Regions from separate parts of the Homo sapiens genome. Here regions 1, 2 and 4 are each linked to region 3. The links come from fine-mapping of genetic effects on gene expression. A gene starts in region 3. Each other region holds a variant in brackets. All regions are shown on one strand. Distances are from middle to middle.

Region 1 (4,866 bases), 100 kb after region 3:
ATTCAGTATGCAGTGTGGTGATGGGCGCACCCACCCTGCGCAGCTGGGCAAGAGAAGGGAGGTGGCTGCTCTGCTTACCTGGGTGCAAAGTTTGATGCTAACGTGGCTCCGCAGGTGAGGCTTGTCATCCAAGCTCAGGCAAGGCCAGGTGTGGTCTGGAATCAGAGGTCAAGAGGGCAGGACCCTGCAGTAGGGGTCCTGGTAACCAGCAGGACTTAGGGGAGCCTGTACCCAGGAATAGCCGTGGAGAAGCCCCTGACCACCAGGTGCGGTTCTGGGAGGGGCTGGGTCACTTGTCCCTCTCCTTGAGCCAGAGTGTGATGCATGGTAACCAGATTGGTTGCTAGAGCACCCCACAGGGAGGCCCTGTGGCCTGAGCCACCACAGGGTGATGGGGATACCTGCTGTAAGGGCAGAGTGGCTGGGTGGGCATTGACTCATGGGCACCAGCTTTGGTCTAGTGCACATTAGAGAAAGTCCAGGGACCAGTGACGAGGTTGGTAGCTCTAGTCCAATCCTGAATCTGGGGATAAGCCTGAGGCTTTCTGTGTTCATTCATTCATCTAGCATTGACTGTACCTCTACCATGTGACAAGCCGTGGGGTTCACAGTCGAAAAAAAGAGCCTCTACAATCAAGGAGGCCACAGTCTAGTTGTGGAGGTAAATCAACCTTTAAAATATAATGCTATTCACATATATTTATCTGTTCATGAAAGGAAACTTTGTAAATACAAAAGAGTATAAAGAAGATAATTAACACTAATCTTGCTCCCTGGAGATAACATTCTTGTTAACATCTCCACCTCTCTTTTTGCCCAGGTGTGTGTGTATGTGCATATTCTACATGGTTGAGATAATTCTGTTAATGGGGTTTCCTATTTTTATTAACATTTCCTTCTTATCTTTTTTTCCTAGATTCATGTGTGTATATATATTCCACATGATTGAGCTAATACTCTAATAAACTTTTATGTCAAGTTATATCAGTTATGGACTTAGTGGCTTAAAGCAATAACAACTGATTATTTCTTAGGCTTCTGTGGGTGAGCTCTGTTGATTTCATCTGGGCTCACTCATGCAGCTGGGATGGAAAGTCCAAGATGGCCTCACCCACATTTCTGGCGTGCAGTGCTGGCTGTTGGCTGCGGCATTTTGTGTCTACTCATCCTCCAGGAGGCCAGGCTAGCCTCCTAATATTGTGGCCTTACCTGTCCACAGGGTCTTACTCTGTCACCCAGGCTGGAATGCAGTGGTACGATCATAGCCCACTGCAACCTTGCCTTCCTGGGCTCAAGCGATCTTCCAGCCTCAGCCTCCCGAGTAGCTGGGAGTACAGACATGAGCCACCACACCCAGCTAATTTTTAAATTTTTTGTAGAGATGGGTTGTCACTCTGTTGCGCAGGATGGTCTGAAACTCCTGGCCTCAAACAATCCTCCTGCTTTGGTCTCCCAGAGTGCTGAATTATAGACGTGAGCCCTCATGTCCAGACCTGTCTGCTTTTCCTAATGATATTCCTGAGATCTTTATATATTTCTTGATTATTTTTACTATTTTACTTCATGCCACTTAATTTTTTTCTATTTTATACACTTTTTTTCTTGATTTCTTCTAAAAAATGGGATACATGTGCAGAACGTGCTTTTCTGAGCAAAATATTATTTTGAACATGGGATGTCTTTCAATGAAAAATGAGATGGCTGTCTACCTCTGTCTTGTTTTCTTCTAAGTTTTTATAGTTTTGTGTGTGTGTGTGTGTGTGTGTGTGTGTGTGTGTTTTAGGCCTTCTGACTCTTGGAACCTCTTGGAATTAATTTTCAGAAAACCCCCAAACTCTGATTCCTCTACTGTGAAGTGGGGGTTTGTTTCTCACTCCACATTCCTGTATAATTGCCCCAATCCCACTTATGCAATAATTCTGCTATTTGGCACTGATATTTGATGCTACTTTGTTTCCGATTTTATCTCCTAATATATGAAGGGATGTTTTCAGGCTTGCTTTCTTGCTCAGTTGATTTATTTTTCCTGTCCTAATGCTACACTCACAAGTATAGTGGCTTTATATTCTACTTGAGTATGTTATTGTAGAAGTGCCTTCTCATTATTCTTCTTTTTCAAAAATCTCTTGGCTATTTTTATTTAATTCTCCCAAAGGTACTTGAGAACCATTTTGTAAAGTTCTGAAAATGAACTCATTGGGACTTTGATTGTAAACTGCGTTACATTTATCGATCAGTTTGTTGCAAACCAACTTTTAATATGTGAAGACTTCCCATCCAGAAACATGGTACATACAGCTCCATTCATTTCAGCCCTTTAAAACATCTCAGTAGAATTTTGTTGTTTATCTTCTTGTAGTTTTCCAATATTTCTTGTGAAAGTTAACGTTTGCAATTCGGTGTTTTTTTGGTTGTTTTTTGGAATGTGCTCATTTTTCCCCATGATATGTTCCAGTTGGTCATTTTTAAAAACAGAAATCAAATTAATTTAAAAAATATTTTTATTGATTTTTAAATGGAATAGATACTATGTAAATAATGTTCATTGAAAAAAAGCTTTACAGAAGAATTTGAATAGAAATGAAAGACCTTCTTTGTGGCCTCTTCCCCTGCATCCACTCCCTGCCTTAGAGAAAACCATTGTTAATAATTAGGCAATAACCATAGAAGATTAACAGTGAATTATTCCAGACCTTTATATATTTGCATATGCATATTTTGACATAAATGGGATCATACTGTACATTAAGACATATAGCTCTGTCTTGATCTATGTAGAGGTTCTACTTTGATAGAGTCCCTGTTTATTGCTTTTTTCCCTTTAGAATTGGTTGTATGCGGATGGATACTCAAAAGTCAAATGGCTGGTTCAAG[G/A]GTTTGTGCAGATTTTTTTCCCAGTGGCTTAAGACTGCAGGGGTTTATTTCTCACTCATGCTACCTGTCCAACAGTGTTTAGTGGGATCTTCTGCCCGCCGAGTCCCTCAGAGACCCAGGCTGCTGCTGAAGGCTTAACTGTTTCTTAGCTGCACGGCGTTACAACTCATGGCCTGCTCTGTTGCTGTGGCAGGGAAGACAACAAATAGGAAATTAAACCTTTCTGTTCAGAGGTGATACATTTCTTCTGTTTCCTGCCTACTGGCGAGAGAAAGCTAGCATGATGTGAACCTATGTACTATGTGTGGGAGGAGGAGGAGAGAAGGTTGTACATTTTAATTTGCATAGATATCTGTTAAATTACCTTCCCTAAAGGGTATATCCATTTACATATGCTAAGAACATATATAGCTATTCGTATGCCCACATCCTTGCCAACATAGGGTATTAGCAACCTTTTAAAATTTTGCTGATCTTTCTCACTGTTTTAATTTTCATTTCCCTGATTAGTGATGAGCTTAACCCTCTTTCTAATATGTTGATAGCCATTTTTATTTATTTGAATTTGTATTTCTTATTCTGCTTCTTTGCCCATTTTTAACTTCTTTTTCTTAATCGACTTTGAAGTTCCTTACATATTCTGGATGTTACTCTTTTGTTGCAAATGTGAATATTTTCTCAGTCCATTGTCATTTAATTTTATTTTTGATGTCTTTTATGAAAGGAAAAATTTTAATTATAGTTTAGTGAAATTTAGCACTCTTCATGGCCATTAGATTTTTGTTTCAGTGACCTTCTCCACTGTAAGTCTTAAAACGCATTTTTTGTGTTTGATATGTTCTTAGATTTTTGTTTAACTTTCTAATTTATCTGGAATTTTGCAGAGGCACTGTGATTTCTCCAACTTTGCTCTTTTTAAAAATTGTTTTGGCTGGCCGCAGTGGCTCACGCCTGTAATCCCAGCACTTTGGGAGGCCGAGGCGGGCGGATCATGAGGTCAGGAGATCGAGACCATCCTGGCTAACATGGTGAAACCCCGTCTCTACTAAAAAATCAGCCAGGCGTGGTTGCAGGCACCTGTAGTCCCAGCTACTCGGGAGGCTGAGGCAGGAGAGTGGTGTGAATCAGGGAGGCGGGGCTTGCGGTGAGCGGAGATCGCGCCACTGCACTCCGGCCTGGGCGACAGAGCGAGACTCCGTCTCAAAAAAAAAAAAAAAAATTGTTTTGGTCATTCTAATTATTTACCTTTTCCACATACCTTTCAACCTTTTAAGAAAAGTTTTTGACACATAATAATTATACATATTTATGGAGTATAGTATATTTCAATACATATAGATAATGTGTAATGATCAAATCAGGGTAATTAGCATATCCATCCCTTCAAACATTTGTCATTTCTTTGTGTTGAGAATAGTAAAAATCCTCTTTTCTAGTTATTTGAAAATACACAATAAAATTTTGTTAACTATATTCACCTTACAGTGCTGTAGAACATTAAAACTTAATCCTTCTGTTTAGCTGTGATTTTGTATTTATTAACTAACCTCTCCCTATCCTCTGTTCGTGCTATTCTTCACAGCCTCTAGTAACTACTGTTCTACTCTCTACTTCTATGAGATCAACTTTTTTAGCTTCCACGTATGAGTGAGTACTAGTGGTATTTGTATTTCTATGCCTGGCTTATTTCACTTAACACAATGTCCAGCAGGCTCGTGCATGTTGCCACAAGTGATAGAATCTCATACTTTTTTATGGCTAAATAGTATTGCATTGTATATAAATATGTATATCATATTTTCTTTATCCATTCATCTGTTGATGGACACTTAGGTTGGTTCTATATCTTGACTATTATGAATAGTGCTGCAGTAAACATGAGAGTACAGGTATATCTTAGACATACTGATTTTCCTTCCTTTGGATATATACCCAGTAGTGGGTTATTGAATCATATGATATTAAATTTTTAGTTTTTTTGAGGAACCTCCT
Region 2 (4,866 bases), 67 kb after region 3:
ATCACTTCTCATTTTTATTTCCTGCCTTATTGCATTGGCTAGAAGTTCTAAACTGATATTAAAAATAATGGTTTTGAATGTCAGGCTTGAATTTTTAATGCTGAAATTTTGTGTACTACAGAACTTGGATGGGTGGGTGGTCATAGTTGTACTTTTGAATTAGGCCTTTTAAATGGTTCTCAAATACATATGTCTGTTCATATGTCTGGCTGTTTCTATACTCACTTCACAACCTCCTCCACCGTAGAAGTGAAAATAAAGAATGAGAATATATCTCAGTAGGATCATGGGCTACATGATGGAAGTTTTAGTGGGGAAAACAAGTGGCAAGTTTCATCCACTCTGGTTTTTGGTGCATCTTCCTGGACGTGCTCATTCCACAGAGCAAGGTTAGCAAGGAACACTGAACTGACAAACTTGTCCATGTGGTTGTCAATCCTGCCCGATTTAGTCAGCCTCTTTTTCTGAGTTAGAGACCTGTAAGTAGCTTTTCTGTCTTCTGTAATTTCTCTCTGCACCCGTCCCCTCCTCTGGCACCCACCACCCTCCACAGCCACATGGGGAAGACCCTAGCAAAGACAGTGACATTGCCCCCAAGTCGTTTCATCCTGGGCATCAATGTACGTGACTCAGCTTTGTGCTCCACAGACTTGGGCTGCTTTGTTGGTATAGCCCAGATCAGCATTTCAGGTAATTGGGCTGTAATTGGCCTGCCGTGGACAGCAGGTCCCCAGTGTGAGGCTTCTGTTTTTGGGGAGTTTCCCTGATTGGCAGGGAGTAAGGCAGTGACCTCTCTGTCTCTCTGAGAGCAGCGCTTCTATGACTCATTCTGGCTCCCACCTCCCACACCTGAGCTCTGAGCTGGTGCGTCTTGTTCCATGGGCTGGTGTGGGTGGCGGTGTGGATGGCAGAGCAGGATGCCAGCACACTCCTGGGAGGCAGTGCTAGGGTCTCTCTGGTGTGCTGGGTGCTATCCTGGGACTGCTGGTGCCCGGCTGCTGTGTGAATCTGCCCCGCTGGGGCTTAGCTCCTGATCTTTTGTCCTATGACACCTCCAAATTTCTCCCTCCTTCCCACTGACATTTCTTTCTTTAGCTCTTGCATCTCCCCATTCTATTCTTTTTTAGATTGTGATAAAATACATATAACATAAAATTTACCATCTTAACCATTTTTAAGTGTGCATTTCCGAGGTATTAAGTACATTTACATTGATGTGCAGTAATCACCACTGTCCACCCACAGAACTCTTTTCATCTTGCAAAACTGAATCTCTGTCCCCATTAAACACTAATCCCACATTCTCCCCTTCTCCCCCAGTCCTTGGTAACCACGATTCCACTTTCTGTCTCTATGAAATAAAATACTCTAGGGACCTCAGATAAGTGGAATCATACAGTCTTTTCATGACTGGCTTATTTCATTCAGCGTGACGTCCTCAGCGTTCATCCATATTGAAGTATATGTCAGAATTTACTTCCCTTTAAAGGCTGACTATACTCCATTGTGTGTGTATACCACGTTTTGTTTATCCATTCATCCATTGATGGAAAATCGGGTTGCTTCCACCTTTTTCACCTTGTGAAATACTCCTCTGATCTTTTACAGCTGAAGACAATAGTGGTCAAAGCATGTAGCGCTTTTTTTACAAAGTTGTTCCTATGAATTTTCACAAGAATTAGAAATTTGCCACTATCATCATCTCCATTTTATAGATGAGGAAACTGAAGCTTGGCGAAGTTAAATAATTTGCCCAAAGTTACCTTTAAAAAATAGCTTAACTGAGATATGTTCACATACCATATGACTCACCAATTGAAAGTGTACAAGTCAGTGATTTTTAGTGTATTTACAGAGTTGTGCAACATCACCACAGTTAATTGTAGCATATTTTTATCACCTGAAAAAGAAACGGTATACCCTTTAGTTATCACCCGCCTATTCTTGTGTCCCCACCTTAGCCCTGGCAACTGCAAATCTGCTTTCTATCCCTATGGATTTGCCTATTCTGGAATTTCATATGAATAGACTGGCACAATGTATAGTCTCTTGTGTCTGGCTTTTTTCACTTAGCATAATATTTTCTAATTCTCCTAGTTGTAGCATGTAGCATTAGTACTCATTTCTTTTTGTTTCCTAAAATTCCTTTTTTTAAAAAAAAA[AT/T]AGACATGGGATTACTGGGTATATACCCAAGGAATTATAAATCATTCTACCATAAAGACAGATGCGCATGTATGTTTATTGCAGCACTATTCAAAATAGTAAAGACTTGTAACCAACCCGAATGCCCACCAGTGATAGACTGGATAAAGAAAATGTGGCACATATACACCATGGAATACTATGCAGCCATAAAAAAGGATGGGTTCATGTCCTTTGCAGGGACATGGATGAAGCTGGAAACCATCATTCTCAGCAAACTAACACAGAAACAGAAAACCAAACACTGCATGTTCTCACTCATAGTGGGAGTTGAACAGTGAGAACACATGGACACAGGGAGGGGAACATCACACATGGGGCCTGTCGGGGGGCTGGGGGCTAGGGGAGGGATAGCTTTAGGAGAAATGCCCAATGTAGATGACAGGTTGATGGGTGCAGCAAACCACCATGGCACATGTATACCTATGTAACAAACCTGCACGTTCTGCACATGTAACCCAGAACTTAAAGTATAAAACAACAACAACAACAACAACCAGTCCCTAAATGCATTAGAAAAAAGAATCTCTCCCATGAGGCTGGGCATTCTTTAGAGAAATGGTTCTCAAAGTGTGGTTCCCAGACCTGGGGACTTGGAAATGCAGATTCTCAGCCTTACCCCAGACCTACTGAATCGGAAACTCTGGATGTGCAGCCCAGCCATCTGTGTCTTAACAAAGCCTTCACCTGATCCTGATGCACACCAAAGTTTGAGAACCAGTGCTTTGGAGAAACTTGCCAAGAAAGAGACAAAGAGAAAACCACCACCACTAGCAGCAGCAGCAACAGCAGCAACAACAGTCCAGGCAACAGCTGGTATGAAGAGCCATGCTCACGGTACCTAGAGCAAGGTACAGTTTAATACAGTGGCTGAAGAGCTCACGCTCTGCAATTCTCACAGCCCTGGGTTTGAACCCCAGCTTTGGTACTTGCTGGCTGCCACTTCCCTTAACCCCTGAATCTGCAAAATAGGGATAATGATTCCTCCCTTTTAAGGTTGTTCCAAGGACTCGGTGAGACCTTACCTGTAAGGCACTTAGCACAGAGCAGCACATTAAGTAAAAGCCACTATACCAGAAAGGAAACTCAAGCAAATCCATCCTCTGCAAAAGTGTTAACATCTCTGTGAGTTCAACATCCTGTGGAACAGCAGTCTACATGGGGTACTTACACACTGGTAGGTACAAGCAGACTTGGTCTGGGGGCATGGATAGATTTGTGAGGCTCAATTTCAAGATCCTCAGTTTTCCTACAGGCTGTCCTGAAACTGATCTGCCTGCAAAGGGGGCATGAAGCAAATTCTCTTTCCTTGTCTTCTCTTTCCACAGGAGCCCTTCTCCCACGTAACAAAAGAAAGGCAGAGTCTCAGCCATCCCAAATCTGAATACGATGCATCATGTAATATAAATTTCCAGGGCTCCAACAGAGGATAAATGGAAATACTGAGGTTGTGAACAATGATTAGATAATAAATCCATGTGCAAGTGAACAGTTCAAATGACTGGGTAACAAGTCCTTATCCAAGTCAAGTGGTTCGTACATAATTGAAGGAAGCCCTAATTGGGCTGTAAGTTGATAGATCATTAAAAATAATTTTTGATGATTAAAAAAATAGAGATGACGTCTCACTATGTTGGCCAGTCTCATCTTGAACTCCTAGACTCAAGTGATCCTCCCACTTTGGCCTCCTAAAGTGCTGGGGTGACAGGTGTGAGCCACTATACCCAGCCTTATTTTCTGAGATTACTTTTTGAACTCAGACATCTGAGTCCACAGTCCCAGTGTTCAGCCACATTGCTGTCCTGTCTCCTCCTTCAAACATTGTATACAAGTTCATGTTTACCTGTTGATATCTTCCCAGCTTCCCCTCATATTCAAGAGACTGGGGGTTCAGCTTTGTACCTCTCTTGCTCACTGTCATGTTGCACATAAGGGCTTCGTAAATTAAAAATTAGTAACTTGAAAATAAGTGCTTAGTCTGTTGAATGCTGTGTGTTGGACAGTGTTGCAAACTAAACTCACGCAAGGAGTCACTTGTGTTAGTATTCTGTGCATGATGGTTACGTATCGTGTTTTGCCGTTAGAAACGAGAACAGACAAATGAGAACATGTTCGTTAAAGGGCTCTGAAACAGTGTGAATTATAAATGTATTGATGGTGGGGATGTGTCACCATTTGCAGTTAGGTTCAGGAGCTGATGAACAACCCACGAGATGGAGGTTTGCACACAGTGGCCTTGGGCCTGTGGCCAGCTGTGACAGCTGGGAGTTCCACAGTCTCAAGGTCACTGGCCTATGTCATAAAAGGCTGGTTACTGAGGACAAGCTGGGAAGGTGACCCTTAGTCCAGCGGATGGAGCCACCTGGGGTGAGGAGTAATTACTTGCTTGAGGCCCCTGAGCTACTAAGTGCAGACCCGAGTCTCTGTGATTCCTAAGTGCCTGCCTTGCCCTGCTCTCTCTAGCCTTGGATGTGGACAGGCTGTGTTGGAGGCTGGTTAGGGACCAAAACATTCTCTGAAAGTAGGAGCTGTTTGCAGCTCCCTGACTGCAGGTTTCTTTTGAAGAGGCAATGCAAATGGAAGGGGTGGTCTGAAAGCAGTGCCATGGCTTCAGAGTACTCTGTCGAGAGTCCAGTGATTATTGCTATGTGGTCCCTGAGAAAA
Region 3 (4,866 bases):
GGAAGCACCTGCCTTTTCTGGAAGCTAGCCATGGTCTGGGGGTAAGCTCAAAATAAAATTGTGTTATGACGGATGGGTAGCTCAGTCACTCAGTTTAAAACCTTAGTCATCTCTGTATCCTTTCCTTAGTCGCGGCCCCTCCCCAAGTCCTCAATGCACACACATCCTGTTAGTCATCAAGTCCTGTTGATCTGAATCGAATGCTTCATGGAAGTAGGTGGAGTAACCATAATGAAAGTTAGCCTGGTTCTTCCTTCTGAACATCTCGCAAATCCCATTTTTCTTCTTCATTTCCACTGCTAACACCAGGGACCATTGCAATTGGTCTCCCTGCCCCTAACCTCAAACCCTGCAGTTGATTTCCCATATTTCTTCTAGAATTTGTTTTCTACAGTGCACTTTTGATAGTCACATGCTTTTGATTGATTCAAAAGTCTTCATCAGTTTCTCCACTGTTGACCTACTAAATAGCAAACTTCTTAGCTTGGCTTTCAAGACTATCTCCGAACTGACCCACATTCACCATCCAGGGTCCTGTGACCTCCATAAACCAGTCCTCCAATCTTCTCATACCCTTCCCATAGCAGAATTGCTTACCATCTACTCTGACTTCTTCTCCTCACGGAAAACACTGTCCTTCCTTTTCTATGAGTCTTCAAGATCCATTTCAGTCCTAAAACATTTCCTGAGCATGGTCATCCACACTAAGTATCCTCTTCTGTGAACTCTGTAAACAACTGTTGTCTAGACTAGGGTTTTTCAAACTGCACTCACATTCTCAGGGAGTACTTGGCCAGTACAAGTCAAGCTTTTGGTGTTTTTGTAAAACTACTGATTATATATTCAAATTTGGCTTAGTATATTATTTCCAAGCCCAGTTTCCTTCTTGTCTTCTTCCAAATTACATCCTCATGCTATGGTGGTGCATTTATTCGTGAGTACAAATTAAGACTCATTAAAATTTGTTTAGCTACCTACAGATAGAGAACTGCTTATTATTACTGTTATTATTTAAAACCATGACCACCGGGAAAATATCAATATGAAGAGAGAAGTTCTATAACAATTTCAACAGTTTCTAAGCCAAATATGCTTTCTGATTTATTAATTCCTTATCCTCACCATTTTTTCCTTATCTTCATGCGGGATTTTAACTAGAAATTGGTATAAAATTTGTTATATTGGCATAGTTCGAAAAACAATCACTGTGTACCTACTCTCTCTCAGGAACAGTGGAAGATGCTTGCGATACAAAGATAAACAAGCCCCTATACGAAGAACAAGAATGTTCCAGATGGATTCAATGTGGAAGGACATTCTAGGCAGGGGGAACAGCAAATGCAAATCCATGTGTCCTGGAATGAGCCAGACATGCTTCAGGTTCCATGGAGTTTTTTTTTTTTTTTTTTTTTTTTGGATTAAAAAATTTGGTGACTTTTCAAAGTTTGACAACCTCAGGATTAAACAATTTATCGAGCCCCTCTGCCATCTCACTCTCCATGAGGGCAGTCCAGGTTGAGACTCAGATACAAATCACCTTTATTGAGTTCTGCTGGGATGGACAGGTCACTTCATGTATACGTAGATCCTCTCCTTAATTCTATTTAAATCACTTAGGTGACTATCACCATCTCCCATCAGGGTTCGGTGACCTGCCCACAGCCTCCCAAGTAGAAAATGATCCAGGGAGCATGTGAGTTAATGATACATCACATCTGGAGCCAGGCAGGCATTTCATGGGTGGGGATGAAGATCTTCCCTCCAATTTCAGAAGTCTGACCTTGCAGGTTCTGAAGTAACTATATACATAAATATTTATAAGGAGAACCCTTTAAGCAGAGGGGTGACCATTTATCCATGAGAGATGGCTTAGGAACGGATTTGGGTTTTGGAGAGCTTCTCTAGCTCCTCCAGCTCCGCAGCCTGTCACACGCAGGATGACCTTTTAGAACAACTGAGTGCTCCATTACACTCCTCACTTGCGGATTCAAACTGTCTCTGGGCAGGGTCCCAGTTTTGCCTGTCCAGGGACACTGTGCACTTGGGTTGACTTTGGTAAATGTTTGAGTAAGGGATGAGTGAATAAATTCGGGGAGAGGGGTTGTTGAGGGAAGGCCACCCCTGGCTCTAAAGACTTTCCAGGGTTTATGGGGTGGCCACGCCTGTCCTGGATCCCCATGGTGCCTCTGGATGGGCCATTTCATCCTTCCTCCCTGTGGCCTCCACATCTTACAACCCAGCCTGGAGGGAGGGGCCGCGCAGCCCCGAGGGGCCAGGTCTCCCAGGCGGCGTCCACTCCCCTCGAGGGTGGAGGAGGTAGGTGGGGACCCCGGGCCGGCGGGGCTCGGCTGGGGCCCCTTCCCTGAGGTCTGCAGCCGCAGCCCTCTACCTGGCTCCCCGGCCGCCCCTTCGCGGCCCCAGATCGGGCGCACCCGGCGGGCACCTGGCCCGCCGCCCCCCGGGGGCCCCGCCAGCTGCTCCCGAAGCCGGCCCGGGGTGGCGGGGCGGGCCCGAGCGCTAGTCGACTCTGGGACCGGTCCCCCGGGGCGCGGCCGGGCAGCAGCCCCCGCCTCCCCGCCCCGGGGGCCGGGCCGGGCTCCCGGGGGGCGGGGACTCGCCCAGTGGCAGCAGCGTCCGGGCCGGCGGCGGGCGCCGGGCGGCTTCCTGCAGGCGGCGCCGGGGCGAGCCGTTGCCGGCTGCAGCCACCGCCGCCGGGTCGCCGGGTCGCGGGGGCCGCGGCGCTCGGGCCGCGTCCGTGCCTCCCGGGCGCGCTGCGCGGCCGTCGCTGCTGCCCGCGCTCGTGCCGCCGCCGCCGCCGCCGCCGCTGCTGCCGGTTACGCCAGCCCCGCCGCCGCCCGCTCTGATTCTGCGCATAGGCAGCCCCCAAGCCTGTCATTCTGCAAAAACACAGTTTACTCAACACACCACACACACTCGCACACACACGCGCGCACACACACGCGCACACCGGACCCCGCGCGCACACGCACGGAGGGCGCGAGCGAGCAGACGCGCACACCGGCGAGCCAAGTTCCGCAGCCTGGCATGGCTTCTGGGGACCTTTACGAGGTACGGGGACGCGGGGGCGCGGGCCGGCCCCAGTCAGCGGGCGGCGGCGGGCGGCGGCGGCGGGCGGCGGGGACCGGGCCGGGGCCGGGGCCGGGCGCAATCCGGAGTTGCCGAGCCCGCGGCGGCGGCGGCGGCGGCCGGAGGGTGGCGGGGGCCGGGCGCGCCTCCCGCCCGCCGCCCGCCGCCCGCCGCCTCCCGCGGCGCCCGCGCCCGCTCCCTCTTTCTCTTTCTCTCGCACACACACTCTCTTACTCCATCTACTTTGCGGCCTTGGAGGGGAAGGAGGAAGCCGGGCGGAGCCGGGGCGGGGGAGGTAGCGGTCCCGGGGAGGTGTTTCTCGCCCGACGAGCCGCCTCGAGTACAGAAAGTACAGGTAAAAGTCGGCGCCGGACGTGCTGGGAATGCGGGGGGGCGCGCCGCGGCCGGCGGGGGTGTGGGGCGGGGGTTGCGCGGCCCGGCTGGGCCGGGGGCGCGGGGGAGGAGGGGGGCGGGCGATCGGAGCGGAGCCTGGCCGGGGCGAGGCGGGGTCCCGGGGGGCTGCGAAGGGGGAGGCTGGGTGGGGGTTCGGGGGGACAACCGCCAAACCGCTCCCCGGGGTCCCCGGGCCACCTCCCTCACCCCCCACCTGCTGCCCCCGCACCAGCTCGGACGCCCTCCGGGCTCGGGCGTGGGGGTGGCCCTTGCGGGTGTCGTGCTCCCTGGGGGCGAAAGGGGGCGCTGCGGAGGGCCCTGGGTGGGAGGAGAACGTGGAAGTCTGAGGTGTTGGGGACATAGGACACAGATGCCAGCCCAGCGCCCAGTACTCTCGTCACCCTCAGTGGATACCTGGCTCCAGGTCCTAATGAGTAGTGGCCAGCGTTGGATACTCTCATGTCTTCCCAAAAGTGGCGAAGGAAGACATTAGTCTGGCATCTTTCAAACAATGGAGGAACACCCATGGTCTTTGGGGAGCAAGGGCTTAGGAACACAACTGTTACTGCTTTGGGTTTTCCACAAGTGGACAACACAAGGAACAGCCAGCCACCACTCCCCAGAGGGAATGGCCTCAGAGGTGTTGGCCGCCAAGACCAGGTTCAGGATAAAGAAGTTAAGAGACCAGCCATCTTCAACCAGAGGGCCTTCTGGGCCTCCGTGAAACCAGCCGCATGGGTTAGCCTGGACCTGCACTTCCCGGAACATAAATTGGTTAACGCCATCTGGTTCTTAAGGCTTTGGGGCTCCATTGAGATAAGCACCCAGAAGGGGTAGAATTAGCCTTTTGCATAAGACATTGTAGGGTGATCCACCCACGACAGACTGCAGGGGGTGATTCCTAAGAAGCTCTTTCCTCTAGGCCCTCGTGGGCAGTTGAAGCTTTTTCAGGTGGTGGGTTTGCTGACTGGCGTTAGAGAAGAAGAATGGAGAAAGGAGCACAGGTCTCCTGTGTGACCATGTTCTTGTGAATGATTCTGGAGTTGGTGAGGCCCAGGCCTGGACTGCCGGCCAGCAGGTTCAGGTGGGGTGGGTGGGAGACCTTAGAGCTCCTTGAAAGAATGGTGTATGTTGCCCTCTTCACTACCCTGTGGCCGTCCTCATCTCTATGCTAAGAGACAAGGTGAAGTTGGATAGAGATCTTGTGAAGAACTTCGGCAAATGTGGCCAATGGATCACCCAAGCGCCTTGGTCTGTTTCAAGATGGTGGAACAATTTCTGAAATTGAAAATTGAAGCACAGTAAAATAGAAGGTTTGATTGAGTTTCCTTATGTGTAACCAGTACTGTGGGGACATTGGCTAAAAGTAGATATTGTTTAGGGGTG
Region 4 (4,866 bases), 27 kb before region 3:
CCAGGTTGTAATACCTGAAGCTTCCTTGGCTTGTATGGTGGGGTACTGGACTTGCCTAATTTCTAGGCATGGAGTTGGGGCTTGTAACAATGGTGGGAGATGGGCAGTGCTTTGGGAATGTAGCTGACCACTGCATGGGTGCTAACTAGCCCAGGGATCTTAAAGAATTTGTGTAGGCCATGAGGATCCACTCCAGCCACTGAATAGTCATAGAATTGAATCTAGGACATCACCGTATGCTACTACCATGCAGTTTTATCCCTTCTAAGAATCCAAATGCCCTAGTTTAATTTCTAAATTTTTGTTTTGTTTATTTTCACTAAAGCAACATGTTAGTGGACTGCGGAGGGAAGTGAATTCATGGCTGGTCCTCATCTTGATATCTTTTAATAGGATCATGAGGCAGTGTGGTAGGAAGAAAACGTTGTATTTAGTTAAAAAAAAAAAAACAAAGAGAATCTGCCTTTTAAGAGAGGAAGAGCATGGCTATCAGAAGTGAATGGCTCTTTGATGGAGTAAAATACTTTGATGAGACTTTGTGGTTGATGAAGATGTCTCTGTCTTGCTTTTTTGACTACTTCTAGGCAAAACCTAGATTTGTAAGGGTAAGTGAGAGAGCTCAACTGCTTCAGCTTAGAAAATAAGGATTTTGACTGTTTGTGGGCAGCCCAAGAATGAGGTAACTGAATGTGGGAAGCCCAAGAATGAGGGGCCCAGTGTGTGAGAATTGGATCCCAGAAATATGGCCATAGGCAGCCTCTGGGGAGAGACCAAGGCCATGAGAAGCTCCCCATGAAGGAGACATTATGGGACGTGTGTGAAAATGACACAGTTTTAAATTACGTGCGTTCTGGCTGTGAAGGAATGGTTGTAAAGAAACCACTTATATTATCCCTAAAAGCCTCAGTAAACGTTTGCCACACGATGTAACAGCTTTGGGATAGTTGCTGGGGAAGAGGGAAGGAGGCTGAGTGGGGTTCAGAAGCAGCAGGGAAGAGAGGTGACCCACAGGAGGGTAAGCCCTACTTCATCCACTCCTCTTTCCCATTCTCACTCTCTGAGGCACTGGAAAGGTCACAGGACCTCTCCTAGTACATGAGATGGGAGCTCGACACATTTTATTTGGAGAATAAAAGAAAATATGCCGTCATCAAACTAGAGCGTGTTGGGGGGCATCTGGTTTACAGAACTAAGTCAAGGAGAAGAACTCTCAAGCAATGGTGACATCTGCCAGCTCTGCAAAGTGGGCCCTGCCTTGTCACACAAGTCTCCTTGGGCAAATGTTTTCTATGTAGATTTTAGACACTTTCCTGTGACTTTCTCAAGGTCTTTTGGTGACACATGCAGCTTGAAGCTTTTGCAAGGGGCTGGAGTCTAATCTCTTCTTGCCCAGCTTGGCTGCAGGAGAAGAAGGGAGATATGTTAGGACTTGGCTTTGACTGAGGTGGTGTAGCCTGGGGTTGCAAGGGCTGTTGCCAAGGCTTTCTGGTGGCATCACATGCTTCAGGAGTTGGATGAATTTTCTGTCATCTTTTGGACTCTGTCGCCTCAAGATCGCTTGTTTTGTTGCATTGCAAAGATCATGTTAGCTGTGTCTCCTTGCCGTTCTGAGAGTGCCTGGCTGCCAAACACAGTCCAAGAACTGTTGAAGAGGCCTCTTGCTAAAGGTGACAAGTTGAAGATGCCAAGGCGTTTGCTGCAGTCATTTTTCTTGCCCAATCTTTATCATCTTCCATTAGTCAGGAGTATTAATGGACAGTCCTGGAGTGTCCAAATGGCAATAATCCATCTTTTTCCCAATCCTACCAAGGGTGTTTCAATGCAGCTGTTGGAATAGTAATGTTTGTGCATTATTGCTGTTCTCAGGGTACTGTAAACTTCTCCCCCTCCTGGATCTTTGCTCACTAAATCAGCCCTAACCCTTTCTCTTCAGTCTCTTTCTCTTGACTTTCCCCTAGATCTTGCCCCTAGACCATCACTCAGCTGGTTCCTCTTCATTGCCTCCATCTTAGTTCAAATGTTTCTTCTTTGGACAGTTTGGAGTTTTGCTCCCCCTCTTCCCTGCCATTCTATAGTAGGTTTTTTTTTTCTTAAAATAGTGCATATCATCTGGGTGCGGTGGCTCATGCCTATAATCCCAGCACTTTGGGAGGCTGAGGGGGTG[T/G]ATCACGAGGTTAGGAGATAAAGACCATCCTGGCCAACATGGTAAAACCCTGTCTCTACTAAAAATACAAAAAAATTACCTGGGTACGGTGATGCGTGCCTGTAATCCCAGCTACTCGGGAGGCTGAGGCATGAGAATCGCTTGGAGCCGGGAGGCAGAGGTTGCAGTGAGCAGAGATCATGCCACTGCACTCCAGTCTGGTGACAGAGTGAGACTCCGTCTCAAAAAAAAAAAAAAAAAAAAAGGTGCATATCACTACCTGTATTGGCTTGTTTAATGGCTTACTTAGTGTCTTAGTCCGTTGTGTTGCTATAAAGGAACACCTGAGGTTGGGTAATTTATAAAGAAAAGAAGTTTATTTGGCTCATGGTTCTGCAGGCTGTACGTGAAGCATGGCCAGCATTTGCTTCTGGTGAGGGCCTCAGGGAGCTTCCAGTTATGGCGGAAGGCGAAGGAGAGCTGCATCACATGGCGACAGGAAAGAACAGAGAGGAGGAGGTGCTAGGCTTTTTCTTAGTACCCAGATCTTGCCTGAACTAATAGAGTAAGAACTCACTCATAGGTATGGCACCAAGACATTCATGCATGATCTGCCCCCATGGTCCAAAAACCTCCACTAGGCCTCACCTCCAATACTGAGGATCAGATTTCAACGTGAGATTTGCAAGGACAAATACCCAAACTGTATCACTTGCTTATTATCTTTCTCCCTCTACTAGAATATAAGCTCAAGAATGACCAGGATTGCATCCGATATGCTCACCATCGTATCCTTCCCATGTACAACTGTACCCTGCACACACTAGGTTCTCAAGAAATATTCATGTAATAAGTGAATAATTGAATGAATGAATGACTAAGTGAAACTTCTCTTTACAACAAGCAAATGTAATAGCCCTTTCTAAGCTCTCATCATCCTCATTGTCCTTGGTGGATTCCCACCACACTCAGAATTCCTTTTCACCTTTCCATGCATATGAGGCCCCACCTAATCAGGTGCTGGTCTTCTTAGCTTTCTGTCTCCTACCACTTTTTGTCTTGCTTCGGGAACTCCACTGTCTTTTCTGTTATAGGAACATGCTAAGGTTATTCTTCATAGTCAAGAGCACAAGCTCTGAACCCAGCCAAATCTGTTTTTGAACTCAAGTTCCACTTATTGCTAGCTGTGTGATATTGGGAAATTCTTTATGTTCTGTAACCCTCACCTCCCTCATGTGTAAAATGGAAGTAATGATGGTACCTGTCTCATATGTGGCAACTACGTGGGGCAGCACACTCAAGGAATGAAGGAAGTTTCAGTGAATGACAACTTTATAAAGACAGTGTTGAGGCAGCCCAGTGCAGCGGTTTGGGAGCCAGGAACAGCGTGTGGGCCGGAGTGTGGCTGCAGGACAGGAGGTCAAAAATAAGGGTTGAGGGTGGAATAGGAAGACCCCGGAACGTCATCCTGGGAGCTTGAGATTTTATTCTACATTTCTCTTGTTCTTAACTATTTAGGGTGATGGATCTCTGCAGTAAGTGGAAGAGTTCTTCATGGCCCCCAAGGTTATATCCATCTAGAACTTCAGCACGTAATTTCATCTGGAAATAGTGCCTTTGCGGATATAAGTTAGGTAAAACTGAAGATGAGATCATACTGGATTAGGATGGGATCTAAATCCAATGAAAATGTCTTCATAAAAAACAGGAAAGAACCCATAGAAACACAAGGAAGAAGGTCATGTGAAGATGGAGGCAGAGATTGGAGGGATGCAGCCACCGGCCCAGGAATGCCAGCAGCCACCCAGAAGCTGGAAGGAAATGAGGGATTCTCTCCTAGAACCTTTAGAGAGAACATGGTCCTGTGAACAGCTTGATTTTGGACTTGCCCATAGCTTGTATACTCTTACTTTGGATACAATTTTATCCAAACTTGGCTAAACAGTTTCTCAGCCTATGGAAAATTTAAAATGGAGAAGATTCAACTCGATTCTTACAGATTCAAAGCAAGAAAATGATGGGAACATAGGAGGAGACCAAGAAAGCCTATAAAAAGCAAAAATATGAAGTGAACATTGTGGTAGCTTTAAGATGTTTAGTGTAGCTGCAGGCACCCTATACACATGAAAACCCCCAAGGGGAATCCCCATATCACAGTGTAGTGTGATATTTGACATTCGTGATCATCTAGAGATGTACAGAAAAGGTGAATCTGTGTTCTGTATATTCTGCCTAAGGCAAAGAAATGTTTAGCTCTCTTTAAAATAGTTCCATAATTTTTTCTAAAAAGCTTTGCTTGAAAACTGTAAGCTTCCCATATCTGGAGCATTTCACTTTAAATATTTGGATAAATATGTTATCTTCTTACTTGGACATTTCATGTGTTTAGGGATTGTCTTCTAAATTCTTCCTAATTCATATAGCTGCTAACACTTCCCGCAGAGCTAAACCATTACAGATATGAAATAAAGACCTATTGATTTGACTTACTTTTACTTGTAAAACCTTCTGAGTGTTATAACCTCATTTAATCTTTCAGCATTTACAGTTTCAAGAGTTTGTGTCACAATTAGAAGAATTCAGCTGCACCTCCAAGTGACAGCAGTTGCTCTGGTTGGTGGGTGATCTCAGGAGGCTTGAGAATTGCTTTGTCTGTGAGGGAAGTAAGACATTTTCAGAGCCCCACTTTAGAAGGTGTGAACTGGCTAGATAATGAACCCCAG

What was found. PIP is the estimated chance that this variant, and not a neighbour inherited with it, causes the effect. A credible set is the group of variants that fine-mapping cannot tell apart.
Region 1: its variant is the best candidate, but not a certain one, in a credible set for the expression of CDYL2 in whole blood (TOPMed, PIP 0.55).
Region 2: its variant is the best candidate, but not a certain one, in a credible set for the expression of CDYL2 in whole blood (TOPMed, PIP 0.64).
Region 4: its variant is the best candidate, but not a certain one, in a credible set for the expression of CDYL2 in neutrophils (BLUEPRINT, PIP 0.52).

Annotation. Positions count from the first base shown.
Region 1 is chr16:80,699,096-80,703,961 of GRCh38, reverse strand. All of the region lies in intron 1 of CDYL2 (chromodomain Y like 2), which reads left to right. Among named protein-coding and RNA genes, the nearest start is that of CDYL2, 100 kb to the left of the region's middle. The variant G/A (reference allele first, on the strand shown) is at 2,875.
Region 2 is chr16:80,735,695-80,740,560 of GRCh38, reverse strand. The region is part of intron 1 of CDYL2 (chromodomain Y like 2); the gene reads left to right. Among named protein-coding and RNA genes, the nearest start is that of CDYL2, 66 kb to the left of the region's middle. RefSeq lists a silencer at 735-894. The variant AT/T (reference allele first, on the strand shown) is at 2,163.
Region 3 is chr16:80,802,353-80,807,218 of GRCh38, reverse strand. It overlaps CDYL2 (chromodomain Y like 2), which reads left to right and starts at 2,621. Exons shown (of 7, transcript NM_152342.4): 1 at 2,621-3,069. The coding sequence starts at 3,046. RefSeq lists silencers at 2,341-2,400, 2,421-2,730, 3,341-3,410, 3,691-3,840.
Region 4 is chr16:80,829,553-80,834,418 of GRCh38, reverse strand. It overlaps ARLNC1 (androgen receptor regulated long noncoding RNA 1), which reads left to right. Exons shown (of 3, transcript NR_131948.1): 3 at 3,662-4,866. Among named protein-coding and RNA genes, the nearest start is that of CDYL2, 27 kb to the right of the region's middle. The variant T/G (reference allele first, on the strand shown) is at 2,165.